2 linked regions of the Homo sapiens genome follow. The protein of the gene in region 1 purifies or fractionates together with the protein of each later gene. This does not show direct contact. Each region holds a gene or a part of one and is shown on either strand. Other genes may lie near its edges. The genes, in order: PRKCH and AKAP13.

The links.
Region 2: the proteins of PRKCH (region 1) and AKAP13 purify together in Homo sapiens (affinity purification with western blotting; one study listed by BioGRID). This does not show direct contact.

What each region holds. Positions count from the first base shown.
Region 1 is NC_000014.9:61,527,481-61,531,304, forward strand, and holds part of PRKCH (protein kinase C eta type), read left to right. Parts: intron 1-1,326; coding exon of another isoform or gene 1,327-1,363; exon of another isoform or gene 1,364-1,378; intron 1,379-1,594; coding exon 1,595-1,733; intron 1,734-2,926; coding exon 2,927-3,115; intron 3,116-3,824. UniProt on the Homo sapiens protein: Calcium-independent, phospholipid- and diacylglycerol (DAG)-dependent serine/threonine-protein kinase that is involved in the regulation of cell differentiation in keratinocytes and pre-B cell receptor, mediates regulation of epithelial tight junction integrity and foam cell formation, and is required for glioblastoma proliferation and apoptosis prevention in MCF-7 cells.
Region 2 is NC_000015.10:85,575,779-85,579,602, forward strand, and holds part of AKAP13 (A-kinase anchor protein 13), read left to right. Parts: intron 1-3,151; coding exon 3,152-3,824. UniProt on the Homo sapiens protein: Scaffold protein that plays an important role in assembling signaling complexes downstream of several types of G protein-coupled receptors.

The sequences.
Region 1 (3,824 bases):
CTTTCCCCTGACTAACTCCTTATTTTCCATTCCATTCATCACTGTCCTGGTTCAGGTCTTAACATCTCTTCCCTGGACGGTTTCAGCCTCCCCCAACTGATCTTTTCTTGTCCAGCCAGGAATCTGTTACTCCCTTAATGAGGGAGCATCAATGAGTTCCTTTTGCCTAATATGTAAAAATCAAAATTCCTTCGTGTGACATTCAGGACCCTTCATGGTTTGAAGGACTTAACTTTCCTCTGTAGCCCTGAGATTTTTCATGGCCCCAGCACTCCTCTGTCCTGTGCTGCCCGCCCCTCAGCCTCCTCCACCATACCCAGGGTTCTCTGAGTCCACCTGCACAGCCATACTGCTGGGCTTGCTGCCGTGTCCCTGCCCCATCCGCCTGTCCATGGCGGCCTTCTCACTCCCCTTCTCTGCCTGGGAGACTCTGACTCATGCTATCAGACCCAGCTCAATTTCTGCTTCTGCTGTGAGGCTGTCTCTCTCTCCTCCCACTAGAAGGAATTGTTCTCTCTTATGTTTCTCTCGTAGCACTTGGTTCATACCTTCATCGTGCCACTAGGATGATACAGCAATTGGTGTGTTCCCCCTCCCCACCCCTCCTGGTCTATCCTGTCCATGTGTGTGTGTGTGTCTGTCTGTATATGAAATATATATCTATTTGTTTTACACACACACACACACACACACACACACACAAAGTATTTCTTTCTTCTCTTTTCATTTTAGAGACAGGGTCTCACCCTGTCGCCCAGGCTGGAGTTCAGTGATGCACTCTCAGCTCACTGCAGCCTCAACCTCCTGGGCTCAAGTAATCCTCCCACCTCAGCCTCCCAAGTATGTGGGACTACAGGTGCATGCCACCATGCCCAACTAATTTTTGTATTTTTCGTAGGTTGGGATGTTGCCCATGTTGTCCAGGCTAGTTTCAAACTCCTGAACTCAAGCAATCTGCCTGCCTCAGCCTCCCAAAGTGTTGGGATTACAGGCACCCAGCCGACAAGTATTTCTTAAGTACATTATGCCAGGCATAATGGCGCCAGGCATAATGGTGAACCGCATAAACACAATCCCCGCCGTCATGGAGCTTCTAGCCTAGCAAATATTTGTCTCCCATTACACTGTGAGTTCCTTGCAGATGAAGATCAGCTGTACTCCTAGTGCCTGTCACCACCCCGGGCACACAGTGGCCACCTCCCCTATGGGTGTTCATTCTGACTCCGATGGGTAGAGATGGGTGCTAGAGTGGAGGATGGGGTATAGGCTGAGTATGAGGTAAGTGGAAAGCCTAGAAAAGCCACATTCTGCCCTCCGTTTTTACAGGACAGCCTACATTTTCCTGTGGTCAGCCCATTCTTAATGGGCGCATCATCTTGGAGCCATGAGGCAAGTTCTGAGACTTGATCTAAATGTGTCATCCAGATAGCACAGAGAAGTTTGTTCCTTTTGACGTGTGTACAGGAAGCTCATGCGGCCGCATGTGGCCGCACGTGTGTGTGTGTGTGTGTGTGTGTGTGTGTGTGCCCATTCTGAGAGGTGGATGGTTTGGGGTCTGGCTGCCCTATCTCGTGCTGCTCTTTGTATCTTTCAGAGATCTGAAACTGGACAATGTCCTGTTGGACCACGAGGGTCACTGTAAACTGGCAGACTTCGGAATGTGCAAGGAGGGGATTTGCAATGGTGTCACCACGGCCACATTCTGTGGCACGCCAGACTATATCGCTCCAGAGGTGAGTGCAGCTGCTTGATGCAGCTCTGAAATCTGAGCTCTCCAGTAACTCTGACCAGAAATGCCACTGGCTGCTTTTATGCACTGCAGCTTTGGAGGCAGCATTGAAAGGTGTCTAGAGCCGACACCTCTAGACTCATTTATGGCTCATTGGGTGAATGATGGCTGAAAATGGCCTAAGTCCCTCTAATAAGAATTTGAGTTAAAAAAGAAAATCATGCTGCTATAAAGACACATGCACACGTATGTTTATTGCGGCATTATTCACAATAGCAAAGACTTGGAACCAACCCAAATGTCCAACAATGATAGACTGGATTAAGAAAATGTGGCACATATACACCATGGAATACTATGCAGCCATGAAAAATGGTGAGTTCATGTCCTTTGTAGGGACATGGATGAAATTGGAAATCATCATTCTCAGTAAACTATCGCAAGAACAAAAAACCAAACACCGCATATTCTCACTCATAGGTGGGAATTGAACGATGAGATCACATGGACACAGGAAGGGGAATATCACACTCTGGGGACTGTGGTGGGGTGGGGGGAGGGGGGAGGGATAGCATTGGGAGATATACCTAATGCTAGATGACGAGTTAGTGGGTGCAGCGCACCAGCATGGCACATGTATACATATGTAACTAACCTGCACAATGTGCGCATGTACCCTAAAACTTAAAGTATAATAAAAAAAAATATATATATATATGTAAACTTTGCAGTTGCTTTGGGCTTTAGCCCTAAATGAAGACAAAGTGTACGCCATTCATGGCTATTTATTTTCCTTTTTGTCTCTACTTAGTGATTTAATTTCAGCGTCATTTAGCAGAACTAAAGAAAGGCTCTTGAATCCTTGAATCCTTCCCGTATGAGTGAGTGAACCCAGTCCCCTTTTTTTTCCAGACTGATATATTTCCAGAACCCTTTCTGTTTGGGATCTGCACGAGCCCATCACAGTGGCCCAATCAGGCCATAAATATTTGCTCACCTAGATGAGAAGGCACCTCTGAGTTGACCACAGGGAAAACAGACCACTCTGTAGAAATGGAATGAAATACGCTTGCTAGCACAGGAGACTTTTTTAAAAAAACTTTGATATTTCCTAATGCATCAATTTCCCTAGTTATGAAGAACACATTTGTTAATCTGATGTATGAACCACCTTCTCACGCTGCCCCCTTTGCACAGATCCTCCAGGAAATGCTGTACGGGCCTGCAGTAGACTGGTGGGCAATGGGCGTGTTGCTCTATGAGATGCTCTGTGGTCACGCGCCTTTTGAGGCAGAGAACGAAGATGACCTCTTTGAGGCCATACTGAATGATGAGGTGGTCTACCCTACCTGGCTCCATGAAGATGCCACAGGGATCCTAAAATCTGTAAGTTTGGCTTACCCAGCTAGCTTCTGATGTATTGCAAACCAGCTTGTTTCATGTGCTGCTTGAGTCTTTTCAGTACTTCCCACCAGTAAACCACTAGCTCTAACTAAAATTTGTATTGTTCTAATCTAAAGAATCAAAGAACCAGAGTTCTGTCAGGCTGTTACCCTCTCTTATGCAATAGACCCTCTCTTATGCAGTAGTTATTTTGGGGTCAATTTCAATAGCCCTTGATAACTTTGTTTGCCAAATAGCAAGTATTTCTAGCACTTCGTAACTTTAGTTGAGGGCAGGTGATGTTTCCCCTTCATACAGTCAGGCCACACCAGAGTTTTGGGTCAAGTAAATGCCATTCCCAGCCTGTTATTATATCAATTGTGTTTCTGTTGGCATCTTCAAGTTGCAGGATGAAGCGGTCGGGTCTTTCTCTTAGGGCTGGGAGAGGAGAAGGAAGGTTTTCCAAACCTCTGCAGATCTATTTTGCCTCCATGTTATTCTTATGAAAGCCGGGTGCCACGCCCAGGCTGCAGGTGCAATGTTGTAATGGATCATGTTGAGAAAGTCTTTTCTGTGTGTGCATTTAAGGCACTGTGCTGGATGCCTTTGAATTGAGGATAAACATGTACTGGACGCCTTTATGTTGAAAATAAAGTACATGTAATTTGGGTCAGTTCTGTAACCACATTAGTTGAGCTCCAAAATCATGTAT
Region 2 (3,824 bases), on another chromosome or scaffold:
GAGCTCAGGAGTTTGAGACCAGCCTGGGCAACATGGAGAAACTCTGGCTCTACAGAAGTTAGCTGGGCATGGTGGCGTACGCCTATAGTCCCAGCTACTTGGGGGTCTGAGGCAGGCAGATCATGTGAGCCTGGGAGGCAGAGGTTGCAGTGAGCTGAGATGACACCACTGCACTCCTGCCGGGGTGACAGAGCAAGACCTTGTCTCAAAAACAGAAAAAGAAGGACTTTCCCCAAAGATTCTGAGACCTGTAAAGCAGTATTAGCAGTATTAAATGTTACCACTTACAGATCAGAGCTAGCATTAAGGTTGTAGCCGTAGGGGGACTGAGAGGTTTTTTTCATTGGTTTTGGGAATAATGGAAGACACACATTTCAGGTACAGAAATATGCAACAACTAGAACTAAATTTCTGGCATAAAAGGATATTTGTCTGTGTTTGGCTTAACTTTACAAAATGAAAGAACCAACAGTTTCTGAGATTGTTGCCAAAGAACAAGAACCAAATTTAATCAGGAGTATTTTTACAACTATTTTAGTGGCGATGATATGTACCATTTAAATATAGTGTTACTATATTTAAATCAATAGTTGTATGGTACAAAGATAGCTAAAAAAAACAGAAAAGATTTTATAATCCACTCAAGTCTTCAAGATAAAGTTGTTGCCAGACATAAAAACATTACAGACTCCCTGTTAGCATTTATTACGAATAACATAAACGTCATATGTGTACATCTCTCTTGGGCATAACATCTGAAAGGCTGTGTTTAGGTAATTTTTCCACCCAGTTTATTTCAGAGCTGATTTGATTTGGAAACCACTGGACAGTAATTTCATTTAAGGTCAGCTCAATGCCAGAGGCTTCTTTGGGAGCATGCATTATTTGAGACCAGCAAGCCAAGAAATTCCATAGGGTTATGTGATGCTCCCACTTTTGTGTTTTAGAATTGTGTTTGTTCCAGAGCACGTGACATTTCATTTTCCTCTGAATGGACTTCTAGGCAATCAGGTTTTTCCTTAGAGCTCTTTTTACTAGGTGAATGGTAGTTCACTTGAAAATATAGTTTTGCAGGTACCAAAGCTACCTGCCAAGATATGGAAATGGTTGGCAGGCAAATACGAGAAATTAAAACTGTGGGAACATACATGTGCTACTTTCTTTAGGCAACACTACTTGTTTCGCCAGATTTCTGTTTTATAATGTTTACCATTTATTAAATTTAATGACTTCATTTCCTGATTTTTAGGAGACTGTCGTACTCTCAGCAGGACTGGAAATAAGCTAATTTTGAATACTCTTAAGGAGCCTAACACAGAAGCTTTTAGTGAAAGTCCATTTTGCTTGTACACTCTACTAGAAAGACTTTAACAAGCATGACACATTTTACACTTGTACATATAAACTTTTACAATAGGCTCAGTAGGTAGATAGGAATGGTCTGATGATGGAACCCTGTAAGTGCCCAATATATTCACTGAGTGAGTAGGTGAATGAGAGGATGGATGGCAGTAGGTATGCATATTATTGCAGTAGATCAGGTAATGAATGAATGGCGAGCAAACCAGATGTTTGGAAAAATAGATTTTAGGTGTTGAGAAAATATTTTTATAAGAATTTTTGAAATTTTGATATAAAGGTAAAATCACTAAAGATCACCTGTATTTGTTTTTCTCCATTTTAAACCTTGCTGCATGCACATGGGATTTTTGCATATTTATAAACTTAGATTAATAATTTTTTTCTAATTGCAATATGGTCCTCATAGTTAATAATGGCTAGTATTTCTTCCATCAGTTTTATGAACCTTGATTTTCTTAATCATTCCCATGCTGTTGGTTATATCTGTTTATATTTTTTAAATACTTTAAAGTTGCAAAATCCATTTTTGAGATTACATATAGTATCCATAATATACTCTGACAGTATATAGGTATATGTTCTCATTTATTTTATATTTAATATGTTCTGATTTTATCAAAAGGTGAAAGAATATCTGCCATGCCACTGTTCCTGAAATTATGACCCCATAACTCGATGGTTAAGTTAGATTGGTTGGAACATATTTTGGGGATTAAAGGACACTGAACTCAGTAAGTATTTAGGGCACAGGCACATTGGCTGCACCTTGTAATGGAAAAGAGCTAGGATTTGTTTTTACTTGTATATATGAGGCAGGGTGTAAGTAGACTCTGCCCTTCTGAAGACAATGAAAAATATAGGTGGGACACAGTGGTGTAGGCCCTATAATCCCAGCACTTTGGGAGACCAAGGTAGGAGGATCCCATAGGCTCAGGTGTTGGAGAACAGCCTGGGCAACATAGTGAGACCCCGTCTCTACAAAAAATAAAACAATTAGTCAGGTGCAATGGTGCACACCTGTAGTCCTAGCTACTGAAGAGGCTGAGGCGGCAGGGTCACTTGAGCCCAGGAGTTCAAGGCTGCGGTGAGCTGTGATCACACCACTGCACTTCAGCCTGGCCTCAGAATGAGAGAGCCCACCTTAATGTTAGCAGCTCAATTGAAGATATTCACTGAGCTTTTTAAAAATCAGGTTTTTGAGACTCTTTTATTTTTATTTTTTTTAAGACGGAGTTTTGCTCTTATTGCCCAGGCTGGAGTGCAGTGGTGCTGTCTCGGCTCACTGCAACCTCCGCCTCCCGGGTACAAGCAATTCTCCTGCCTCAGCCTCCCAAGTAGCTGAGATTACAGGCATGCACCACTACGCCCAGCTAATTTTGTATTTTTAGTAGAGACAGGGTTTCTCCATGTTGAGGCTGGTCTCGAACTCCTGACCTCAGGTGATCTGCCTGCCTCAGCCTCCCAAAGTGCTGGGATTACAGGCATGAGCCACCATGCCCGGCGAGACTCAGTTTTCATCTACTTCCTAAAATAAGTTCAAAATTTAGAAAATAGATATTTCATATATCCTAATCTATTTTGAACATCCCAGTATATAGGCAGATATGAAAGGAAAGTAATATCAGAAATAAGAGGAAATTTATTTGTATTCTTTTAGATTCGCTTATCATGTGACCTTAGAAGAGCTAGAATAGAAGTGAGTTCTGTCCAACAGAATTTTTGCTCAGAGGTGTCAGTGACATCTTCTCCTACAGGCAGTTTTTTAAAAGTGTATTTCATTTCCTCCTAGAAAACAAACCTCAAGCAGATGGACAGTCTTATGCCCTTAATGATGACAGCACAGGATCCTTCCAGTGCCCCAGAGACAGATGGCCAGTTTCTTCCCTGTGCACCGGAGCCCACGGACCCTCAGCGACTTTCTTCTTCTGAAGAGACTGAGAGCACTCAGTGCTGCCCAGGGAGCCCTGTTGCACAGACTGAAAGTCCCTGTGATTTGTCAAGCATAGTTGAGGAGGAGAATACAGACCGTTCCTGTAGGAAGAAAAATAAAGGCGTGGAAAGAAAAGGGGAAGAGGTGGAGCCAGCACCTATTGTGGACTCTGGAACTGTATCTGATCAAGACAGCTGCCTTCAGAGCTTGCCTGATTGTGGAGTAAAGGGCACGGAAGGCCTTTCGTCCTGTGGAAACAGAAATGAAGAAACTGGAACAAAATCTTCTGGAATGCCCACAGACCAGGAGTCCCTGAGCAGTGGAGATGCTGTGCTTCAGAGAGACTTGGTCATGGAGCCAGGCACAGCCCAGTATTCCTCTGGAGGTGAACTGGGAGGCATTTCAACAACAAATGTCAGTACCCCAGACACTGCAGGGGAAATGGAACATGGGCTCATGAACCCAGATGCCACTGTTTGGAAGAATGTGCTTCAGGGAGGGGAAAGTACAAAGGAAAGATTTGAGAACTCTA